3 linked regions of the Homo sapiens genome follow. The protein of the gene in region 1 interacts with the protein of each later gene in a pairwise test. Each region holds a gene or a part of one and is shown in the gene's direction. Other genes may lie near its edges.

Evidence for each region.
Region 2: the proteins of TMEM106C (region 1) and PGA4 interact in binary tests that used the Homo sapiens proteins (3 or more experiments, as listed by UniProt).
Region 3: the proteins of TMEM106C (region 1) and AIG1 interact in binary tests that used the Homo sapiens proteins (3 or more experiments, as listed by UniProt).

Annotation. Positions count from the first base shown.
Region 1 is NC_000012.12:47,966,478-47,969,415, forward strand, and holds the end of TMEM106C (transmembrane protein 106C), read left to right. Parts: intron 1-205; coding exon 206-255; intron 256-730; coding exon 731-784; intron 785-1,655; coding exon 1,656-1,752; 3' UTR 1,753-2,401; downstream 2,402-2,938.
Region 2 is NC_000011.10:61,220,803-61,224,557, forward strand, and holds the start of PGA4 (pepsin A-4 preproprotein), read left to right. Parts: upstream 1-1,544; 5' UTR 1,545-1,598; coding exon 1,599-1,654; intron 1,655-2,140; coding exon 2,141-2,303; intron 2,304-3,755. UniProt on the Homo sapiens protein: Shows particularly broad specificity; although bonds involving phenylalanine and leucine are preferred, many others are also cleaved to some extent.
Region 3 is NC_000006.12:143,067,275-143,070,929, forward strand, and holds part of AIG1 (androgen-induced gene 1 protein), read left to right. Parts: intron 1-3,655. UniProt on the Homo sapiens protein: Hydrolyzes bioactive fatty-acid esters of hydroxy-fatty acids (FAHFAs), but not other major classes of lipids. Show a preference for FAHFAs with branching distal from the carboxylate head group of the lipids.

The DNA of each region.
Region 1 (2,938 bases):
GTTACAGCCTGAGGTCCATTGGCCTCTCAAAAGGGAAGAGGTTGGCAGTATCAATTAGAGGCTCATAGACTATATTAGGGACAATCTCAGGGAAGTATTTTGCATGTGATGGAAGAATGACCCAAGGTCTTTGGATTGCTAATAATAATACTGTTCTGTGTCAAGCCTGCTTGGCCACAGACCAACTCTGGTATCTTATTTTCAGGTGAATTTTACCGGGAAGGCCGAGATGGGAGGACCGTTTTCCTATGTGTAGTAAGGACACTGTTCTCTCTGTGTGTGCTCTCTACTGGAGGAAAGGGATTCAAAGTCATACTCCATTGATTGGGGCCTGGTCCTGCCTTAGATCTCAGCTTTTGACTTATAGGTTCCCTGGCTTTGGATGTCTTGAGATTTATTTGAAGAATGTATTATTATTATGTGTGTATTTGAAGAATGTATTATTTGATATGTGACAGAAGTGCTGGAATTTCTAAAAGAGAACATTAAGCCACTAAAAACGTTACCAAGCTCCAGCACTTATGTGATGGGTTTGAAAAAACAGAAAGTGGTATGACGCTGTGGGAGGATGAAAATGACAGTGGCAGGGACTGAGAGCTGACAAGCCTTGGCAGCACTTAGGTCGGAAGGGGGAGGGGGGCACCCCAAACAGGACAGTGTAACTCTGCACTCTTCTACTGAGGCTTTAAAAAAAAAAAAACTGACTATTTCCATATTTGCTGTTTGGTAGCTTCTTCTGCACGGTACCTGAGATCCTGGTGCACAACATAGTGATCTTCATGCGGTGCGTCTCTCTTCCCTATCCCGATGGCCTGTCCGGCCATGTGAGCCTACCACCTTTGCTCAGGAGGCCCCTGTGTGACCACAGGGCAGAGGCACCTAGCCCGAGGGGACACCCTGTGCCTCACAGGCACAGATACAGTAGACCCTTGGTGTTCTCTAAACACAGTGTCCACATGCCCTTCACAAATCACCAGTCACCCTGAGCAGTCAAACATTTTCTCCATAAAATGGGTCTAGTTTAACTAAACACTTGATCCCCTCAGAATCCTAATGAGACAGTCATGAACAGAAAAGCTTTCTCAAGATGTTAAGTACTGGGCATTTGACCAGACTTCCTCTCTAGCCACACAAATTACCACATGTCATGGACCTTTAGGGTTGTTTTCTGGAAGCATGGCTGTTAAATTTGCAAGTGACAAGACTCTGCTGCAGACATGAAATATGAGGGGTTAGAGCAGAGTTTCTCAGCCTTGGCACTACGAACATTTTGGGCCAGACCTTTGTTGTAGGGGGCTGTTCTGTGCATTATAGGATGTTTAACAGTATTCCTGGCATCTGCCCACTAGATCCCAGTAGTAAACCCTCCATCCCTTAGTTGTGACAACCCAGAATGTCTTCAGGCATTGCCAGAAGTCTCCTGTGGGGTAAAATCATTCTCGATTGAGAAGCCTTGTTTGGAAGGCCACCTCCTGGCACAGTATCTCTGTGAAAGTGGAAAGATCTTCTGGCCTCCTGGTTACATAACCATGAGGATATGTGCCTGGGGCCCGTGGGTATTGTTCTCTGAACTTGCAAAAAATTTCCTGGGACATTTTTCTGGCTTATTTCATCCCCCAAACATAATTAATTCTTCTTGGTTTTCTTTTCCCTAGAACTTCAGTGAAGATTTCATACATTGGCCTCATGACCCAGAGCTCCTTGGAGACACATCACTATGTGGATTGTGGAGGAAATTCCACAGCTATTTAACAACTGCTATTGGTTCTTCCACACAGCGCCTGTAGAAGAGAGCACAGCATATGTTCCCAAGGCCTGAGTTCTGGACCTACCCCCACGTGGTGTAAGCAGAGGAGGAATTGGTTCACTTAACTCCCAGCAAACATCCTCCTGCCACTTAGGAGGAAACACCTCCCTATGGTACCATTTATGTTTCTCAGAACCAGCAGAATCAGTGCCTAGCCTGTGCCCAGCAAATAGTTGGCACTCAATAAAGATTTGCAGAATTTAATACAGATCTTTTCAGCTGTTCTTAGGGCATTATAAATGGAAATCATAACGTGGTTCTAGGTTATCAAACCATGGAGTGATGTGGAGCTAGGATTGTGAGTGACCTGCAGGCCATTATCAGTGCCTCATCTGTGCAGAAGTGGCAGCAGAGAGGGACCATCCAAATACCTAAGAGAAAACAGACCTAGTCAGGATATGAATTTGTTTCAGCTGTTCCCAAAGGCCTGGGAGCTTTTTGAAAAGAAAGAAAAAAGTGTGTTGGCTTTTTTTTTTTTTAGAAAGTTAGAATTGTTTTTACCAAGAGTCTATGTGGGGCTTGATTCACCCTTCATCCATTGGCTGGAACATGGATTGGGGATTTGATAGAAAAATAAACCCTGCTTTTGATTCATCTGTGTCTCCTCTGATTGCCTGGGTGTTTTGTAGGGATCTCTGGGGGAACCGTAGAATAGTTCCCTTCCAAGTGGGTCAGGATGGAATAGGAGGAAAGAGACTGCACCCTGATTGTACTCCCGTTCCCATGAGTTCCTGTCACAGCAAGCAGCCTCATTTTCTTCCATCTGCCTCTTGCGGCAGGGGGCTACCCTGTTCCCTTCCAGGACAGAGCACTCAGTGCCCCATGGAGGTTGGAATTCAGTCTTGAATAAGACATCCTGGTTTGAGGTTGTAAGTTTCTTGGGTCATCTCCACCTGCTCTGCCACCAGAGGTTAGGCTACAGCCCCAGGATGGCAGAGAATCTAGTTAAGAAGCTTGAGTAGTCAGGTGTTAGAAGTCAGCTCTTCCCATAGCACTGGGACCTCAGGAAACCCTAACAACAACAGGTGGTGGCTGGGGTTGTATATTAGTTTTTGTCTCCATTCCCATAGCTTGGTTTTCAATATTTGCTTAATGATCTGTATAGTCTTGAATCTTCAAACTAAAGCTAAA
Region 2 (3,755 bases), on another chromosome or scaffold:
ATTTACAAGCCTTTAGCTAGACACACAATGTTGATTGGTGCATTTACAATCCTTTAGCTAGACACGAAAGTTCTCCAAGTCCCTAATCGACTCAGAAGCCCAGACGGCTTCACCTCTCATAACCTCTGCCTCCTGGGTTCAAGTGATTCTCCTGCCTCAGCCTACCCAGTAGCTGGGATTACAGGCGCCCACCACCATGCCCAGCTAACTTTTCTACTTTTAGTAGAGACGGGGTTTCACTATGTTGGCCAGGCTGGTCTTGAACTCCTAACCTCAGGTGATTCACCTGTCTTAGCCTCCCAAAGTACTGGGATTACAAGCGTGAGCCACGGCGCCCGGCCAAGCATCCTCTTTCTAAGTCACTCACCCATGAGTATGAATTGTTTGCCCAGATTGCTTCGCTCCATTGTAGCTGATTTCAACCCAGTTGTAAGCCTGGAGCACCTGGAGAAATCAGACCCAGGTGGGATCTCAAAGGTGGAGAGGGTGGGAAAGGAGCAAAAGAAAGAGAAGCGGTGCAGAAAGGGAGGGACACAGATTCCAAAGACATACCTGGCCTGTCTGAAGTTTGCCTCCTCCAGGAAGGGAAGGCAGCATTCTCCCGGTGCTGTCTCCCTCCTCCCCCGTGTACTGTGCACATCTCCTTCCCAGACTCAGCCCAGTTGCACCAAAAGCAAGCCACAAGGCCCATAGGCTAGTCAGACGCCCAACAACCCCACACAATGACACTTATGTGGGGAATTGTGTCCTGAGTCCCAAACGACTGACCCCCCCAATGTGCTGTGAATAAGCAGTGACCACAACCAGTACCACCTATGACTGAGTCGGGAGGCTGCTCTCTAAGAACCCCAGCTGCATGCCCTCTGGGACAAATCAGGCCACCTGGGGCTCCTTCACATCTCTCCAATGCTGTGTTAAACGCACTTTTAACCAACTTTGTCAAAATGCTCAGCTGGTAAAGTTTTAACGTAGGCCCTTGTCAATGCTTCAGAAATAAGCCTCTGGCGGCGCGACAGAGCAAAACTCCCTCAGGAAAGAAAGGAAAGAAATGGAGAAAGGGAGAAAGGGAGAAAGAGAGGAAAAGAAAGAAAGAAAGAAAGAAAGAGAGAGAGAGAGAGAAAGAGAGAAAGAGAAAGAAAGAAAAGAAAGAAAGAAAAAGAAAGAAAGGGAAAGAAAGAAGGAAAGGAAGGAAAGAAAAGAAAGGAAAGAAAGGAAAAGAAAACAAATAAGCCTCCAGGTCATTGCTTAGAAAGAAAAAGAAAAAAGAAAGAAAGAAAAGAAAGAAAAAGAAAAGAAAAGAAAATAGCCTCCCGGTCATTGCTCCTCTCTCTCTCTGCGGGTCCACCCCCATGGCACCCTCCCCCCTCCCCATGGTGCAAGGTTACAATGGAAAGTGCCTCAGCTGGAAAGGTCTCAGAATGTGGCTCAGGGCAGCCACAATCTTATCAGGAGCTTCTCTGTTTGGGATCAGGGGAACCGGTGACTTTCAGAGGCCGATAAGGCGGGACCCAACTTGTATATAAGGGGCAGCTCATGCTGCTGCTCTGCACCTTCCTCCCATCTTGCCTTCTCCCTCGAGTTGGGACCCGGGAAGAACCATGAAGTGGCTGCTGCTGCTGGGTCTGGTGGCGCTCTCTGAGTGCATCATGTACAAGTGAGTCCGGGTGGTGTGGGTGTGAAGACGCTGCCTCCCACATCACCTTTCTTTCCTCCCGTGTCTTCCTTCTTCCCTTTTTTTTCTCTCTCTCTTCAGCTGTCTCCATCCCCCTTTTCCGCCTCTCTCTCTGCCTTTTTGGGAGGCAGCCCTGCAGACATGGTTAAAACTCGGGCCCAGCCTGACTGTGGTTCCCAGCTCCAGCCCTAGTCAGCTTAACTTCTTTGCATTATGGGGCAGAAGTGGGAGCTTCTCCCTTCCTTCCATCTTCCTCTCTTAGATCAGCTGGTTAAGAGTCCAGCCTGGGTTTGGCTCCCAGCTCCAGCACTAGTCAACTTAACTTCTTTGCATTGTTGGGCAGAAGAGGGGGCGTCTCCTTTCCTTCCTTCTTCCTCTCTTAGACCAGCTTCCCTTCCCTTCTGGGGCTGCCACAGCACCCGGTCAGCAGAATCCTTGCCTAATTCCTCTTCCTTCTCCAAACCACAGGGTCCCCCTCATCAGAAAGAAGTCCTTGAGGCGCACCCTGTCCGAGCGTGGCCTGCTGAAGGACTTCCTGAAGAAGCACAACCTCAACCCAGCCAGAAAGTACTTCCCCCAGTGGGAGGCTCCCACCCTGGTAGATGAACAGCCCCTGGAGAACTACCTGGATGTGAGTGTGCGGGCAAGTGGTGGGGCCAGCTCTGAGGACTTGGCCCGCAGGAAAGAGGGTGTCCCAGGGGTCTTGGAGGACGGGCCTGGGCTCTGTGGCTCCAGGCAGTGACCCAGAGTCTGCCCCCTAGATGTCAGTGGCCCAGGGCAGGCAGGAAAGCTCACAGTCAGAGTTCATTCATTCATTCGTTCACTCGTTCATGCAATGTTAATTTCTCTGAGCGCCTCATTCTATTTCAGGGCCTGTGCTGGGCTCAGGGGGAGACAGCAGTGAGCAAACTCATAGCCTAGGAGACAAACACAGTCATCAAGGGGTCTCGCAAACCAATGAAAAGAACAGGCAGCAGGAGGACTACAGAGTGACGGTGTCACACTGCGAGAGTCTGCCACTTGGGCAGGGAGCCTCCCTGGAGCCACGCAGGAAGAGCAGGAGTTTCCAAGAGAACAAGACAGAACTCCGCATAGCCTGATCCCTTGTGCCAAACCCTGTAGCAGGCGGGAGCACAGTGCCTTTGAAGGGGAGCCGAGAGGGAGGGAAGAAGGGTGCTGCAGACTGCGGTCCGAGGAACTGAGGGGTGGACGCAGAGAGGCTCCATCCTAACTGCCTCTGATTTATCTTAAACAGGGGGATGACAAGATCAGATCTGAGTTTCAGAAAGATCACCCTGACTTTGTTATTTGAGACCCGATAGCAAACACCCTGCCCTCCTGCAGATATTGTATGTCCCCTCTGTGACTGGCACAGGGCACAAAGCAGTGATGCCTGTGGTTCAGAGACTGGCCTCTGCCATCCAGCAGACCTGGTGCAAATATGGGTCCTAGTGCCTCTAAGCCACAGGACCTTGGCCAAGTCATTTAAATACTCTGAGCCTGTGTCTTGGTCTGGAAAACAGAACCACTAATATCTACCGTCAGAGGATGTTGCCAGGAATTAACACGATCATGTTTTCTGGAGTGCTTAGCATGGGGTCTGCCAGGCCCTTGGTAAGAGGCTTAATTAGCGCATTTATTTAGTTCACAAATATTTAACAAATATTGGCACCTCTCTATGTGCCAGAGGCTATGCAAGTTGCCAAAATGATGGTGAATAATCAAAGTTCCTGGAGCTTATACTCTAAAGGGGATAACAAATAAACAACCATGTAAGATAATTTCAGGTAATGATAAGGGCCTTGGCAAATTAATTAATGGGAGCATGGGGAACAAGAAGATTGAGAGGGGGCAAATTTAGATAAAGTGGTCACGGAAGGCCTGTTGGCAGAGGGGACATTTGACTAGAGAGCTGAATGATTGATTTTTGATAAAAGGATCAGCCAAGGAAAGATCTAGAATAAACATTTTCCTAGCACAAGGAATAGCCAGTGCAAAGGCCCTAGGGCAGGAGTGACTGGTCATCGCCAAAGAACAGCAAGCAGACCAGTGTGGCGGGAACAGAGCCGGCAGGGGGAAAATG
Region 3 (3,655 bases), on another chromosome or scaffold:
GTTTTATGAAAGCCAAAGGCATGGTCTTATATTTTGGCTAGGTGAAGGCATTTTTGTAGAAGTTTAAGGTAATATAATCTAGGTACTTTTTTTGTTATCTAAATCTGTATTGCAAAGGAATTTCAGAAAACCAGAGAGAGATGAGGATAAATAAAGTCTCAGATGTGGAAAAGCTTGGGGTGCTCAAAGAATAGGAAATAGTCAAGTGTACCTGGACGATACCATTTTTGCTTTTAGACATGCTGAGAATTTTTGACATTTAAAAAATGTTAAAGAGGGAAAATAAGCTGCTTAAGTATACTACATTTTGCATTTGAGTTAGTCTTATATTTATTTACATACTTATCATAAAACATATTCTTGTCTCTAGTTCATGACTTAATTTTAAATAGGAAATAAAATACCTTGAGAAGAGATTCTGCATGTCATTATGTAACTATGGTACTTAGTTTTGCCAGTCAAAACCACACATTGCCACGTGAAGGCCAGTAGTTTATTGAGTACTCAGGGAACAAAATTAGGTGGATTTTTTTCTGTTTTTTGTTTTTTGGGGTTTTGGATATTATACAGAGAGTGTAAAATTGCAATTTTTTTCTTCAGGAGACTCAGACTTGACCCTAAAATATGCATATAAACTTGAAGGCTCAAATAATGTTTTTTCCTAACCTGGAGGAAGAATTGTGAGAATAATGCTTTGCATAGAATCCTCTTCACCTTCTTTGCATGTTTCTTTTGGATCAGGCATAAAATAGGGGCCTGGTTTTGTTAGAGTGGGGGAAATAGTTGATGATATAATCACCCATTCCCTCTTAGTTGCAAATGGTATTGAAATTACAGAAAGTCATCTGACCACTAGTTGAGGTCACTTCTTTTCCCATTCCTGCCATTCCCCCATGTCTGGTATAACATTTGGCAAAATTGGTAACTGCTCTTGAGGGTTTTCATTTGTTTCTGTGTGTTCCTCTGAAATGTCATGTTTCTGGGGGAAGCAAGAACAACAGTACAATTTTCCACATTGAATCAGATGTTCATGTGATCCAAGCGTGCTTGGAAAAATCTTACTGCTTAGGATTCTATACAACATAGCTCTCTTGTGCAGTCTGTAGTTAGACAGTTAAAGGGCCCATGCCTCACCTGCAGGGTAGCCCTTCTGAGTGCGGTGGAAGCAGAGCTTTCTTGGAAAGTGAGACACCACTTGATCAGATCCATTGTGGAATTGAACAAGATGTAAGACAGAAGCATGGAATTCTGAAAAGTCAGACAATGCATTAGTGCACTCACATTGTCTTATATTTAGGTCTGTCAGGTTGTGTTATAATTTTAAAAATTAATTTCAAAAGCGATACATACTTATTATAGAAAATTTGTGCAAATACAGGAAACAATAGAAATACAGGGAAGAAAATATAGTCCATCTTAATTCTCCCTAATTTTCCTTGCATCTTAGCATTTTAGTGCTTCAGGATGGTATTTATTTTGGAACTTTAGTACATACAGGAACATAGAGAGACTACAGTATATATGTATATGTGTGTTCATACGTATGTAGTCAGATATCAGAAAAAATCATATTCTTTAAAACTTATTTTAAAATTACGGATATCACTTAGAGATACTGATGTTAGTATTTTGATATTTGACTTTTCAGTCATATATATACTTCTGTTAAAAAAACAAAAAATTCAATATGAACATATGGTTTTTATAAATTCTTCATCCACATACACTAAAATTTATTCCTTTTTTTTTTTTTCTCTTGAAATGGAGTCTCACTCTGTCGCCCAGGTTAGAGTGCACTGGCGTGATCTCGGCTCACTGCAACCTCCATCTCCTAGGTTCAAGTGACTCTCCCGCCTCAGCCTCCCGAGTAGCTGGGATTACAGGTGCATGCCGCCACTCCTGGCTAATTTTTTTGTATTTTTAGTAGAGACGGGGTTTCGCCATGTTGCCCAGGTTGGGCTCGAACTCCTGGGCTCAAGCGATCCACCTGCCTTGGCCTCCCGAAGTATTGGGATTACAGGCATGAGCCACCGCGCGCGGCCAATTTATTCTTTTTAGTATACAATACTGTAAGTTTTGACAGATGCATAGTTTTGATAGATGCACAGTTTTGATAGATGCACAATTTTCCAGAGTGGATGTGCCATGTTGCATTACCACCAGCAATGTGTGAGAGCTCCACAGATGGGAACTCATATTGTATCTTCAGAGTGTGGCGTTGTCAATTTTTCTTTTATTTCAGCCATTCTAATAGGTGTGTAGCACTATCTCATTGTGGTTTTGAGTTCCCCTCATGACTGAAGTTGTTAATTATCTTTTCCTGTGCCTTTTAATAATATATTCATGTTCTTTGTGAAGTTTGCCCATTTAAAAAATACTGGGTTGTTTTATTATTATTAAGCTTTGAGAGGTTTTATGTTTGCCAAATGAAAGCTCTTTGGCAAATATGTGATTTGCAAATGTTTTCTTCCTGTCTGTAGTTTATTTTATCAATAGTGTCTTAAACAGAGCAAAAGTTCATTTTGATGATACAAAATTTACCATTTTTCTTCTTTTTATGGAACCTCCTAGAAGTTTTAAAGTTTTAGGTTTTACATTTTTATCTATAATCCTTTTTTTCTGGTATATGTTGTGCAATTTTCCCTGCACCGTGTCTTGAAAAGATTGTCATTTTGCCATTGAATTACGTTTGCACCTTTGTCAAAAATCAATTGACTACATTTGTGTGTCTGTTTCTGGATTCTGTTCTGCTCCACTGATGTGTGTGTCCCTTCACAGGTACCACACATTGTTGATTGCAGCTTTATAGTAAATCTTCGAAGCAGGTAGTGAGAATCATCTAACTTTGTTCTTTTTCAAAATTTGTTTATGCTATTCTAATTACTTTTCCTTTTTGTTTAAATTTAGAATAATCTTGTTAATATCTACAGATAATTGTACTTGGATTTTTTAGTAGAATTTAATTGAATCTATAAAACGATTTGGGGAAAGTTGGACATCTTAACAATATTTACTTTTCCAACCCATGAACATGACATATCTCTTCATTTATTTAGATTTTTAAATTTCTTTCATTGATGTTTTGTAGTTTTCAGCATATAGTTTGTGCGTGTATTTTGTTAGGTTTATACCTATTTTATTTTTGATTAGTGCTATTGTGAATGGTATTTTTAATTTTTTTTTAGAAATTTTTATTTTCTTAGTCCATTTTGTGTTGCTATCACAGAATACCACAGACTGGGTAATTTATAAAGAAAAGAAACTTATGTCTTACAGTTCTGGAGGCTCAAAAGTACAAAAGCATGGTGCTGGCATCTGGTGAGAGCCTTCTTGATGCACCATAGCATGGTGGAAGGCATCACAGGACAAGAGAGGCATAAGAGAAAGAGCCAAACTAGCTTTTATGACAGACCCACTCTTGTGATAACTAACTCTCCTGTGATAATCTGTTAACACATTAATCCATTAATGGCAGAATCCTCATGACTCAATCACCTCTTAAAAGGCCTTACTTCTTAATACTGTTAGATTGGGGATTAAGCTTCCACATGAATTTTAGAGACAAAAACATTCAACGGCAGTGACCCTTTTATATTTAATTGACATTTTAATTGAGGTAATTGTAGATTCACTTCAGTTGTAAGAAATACAGAGA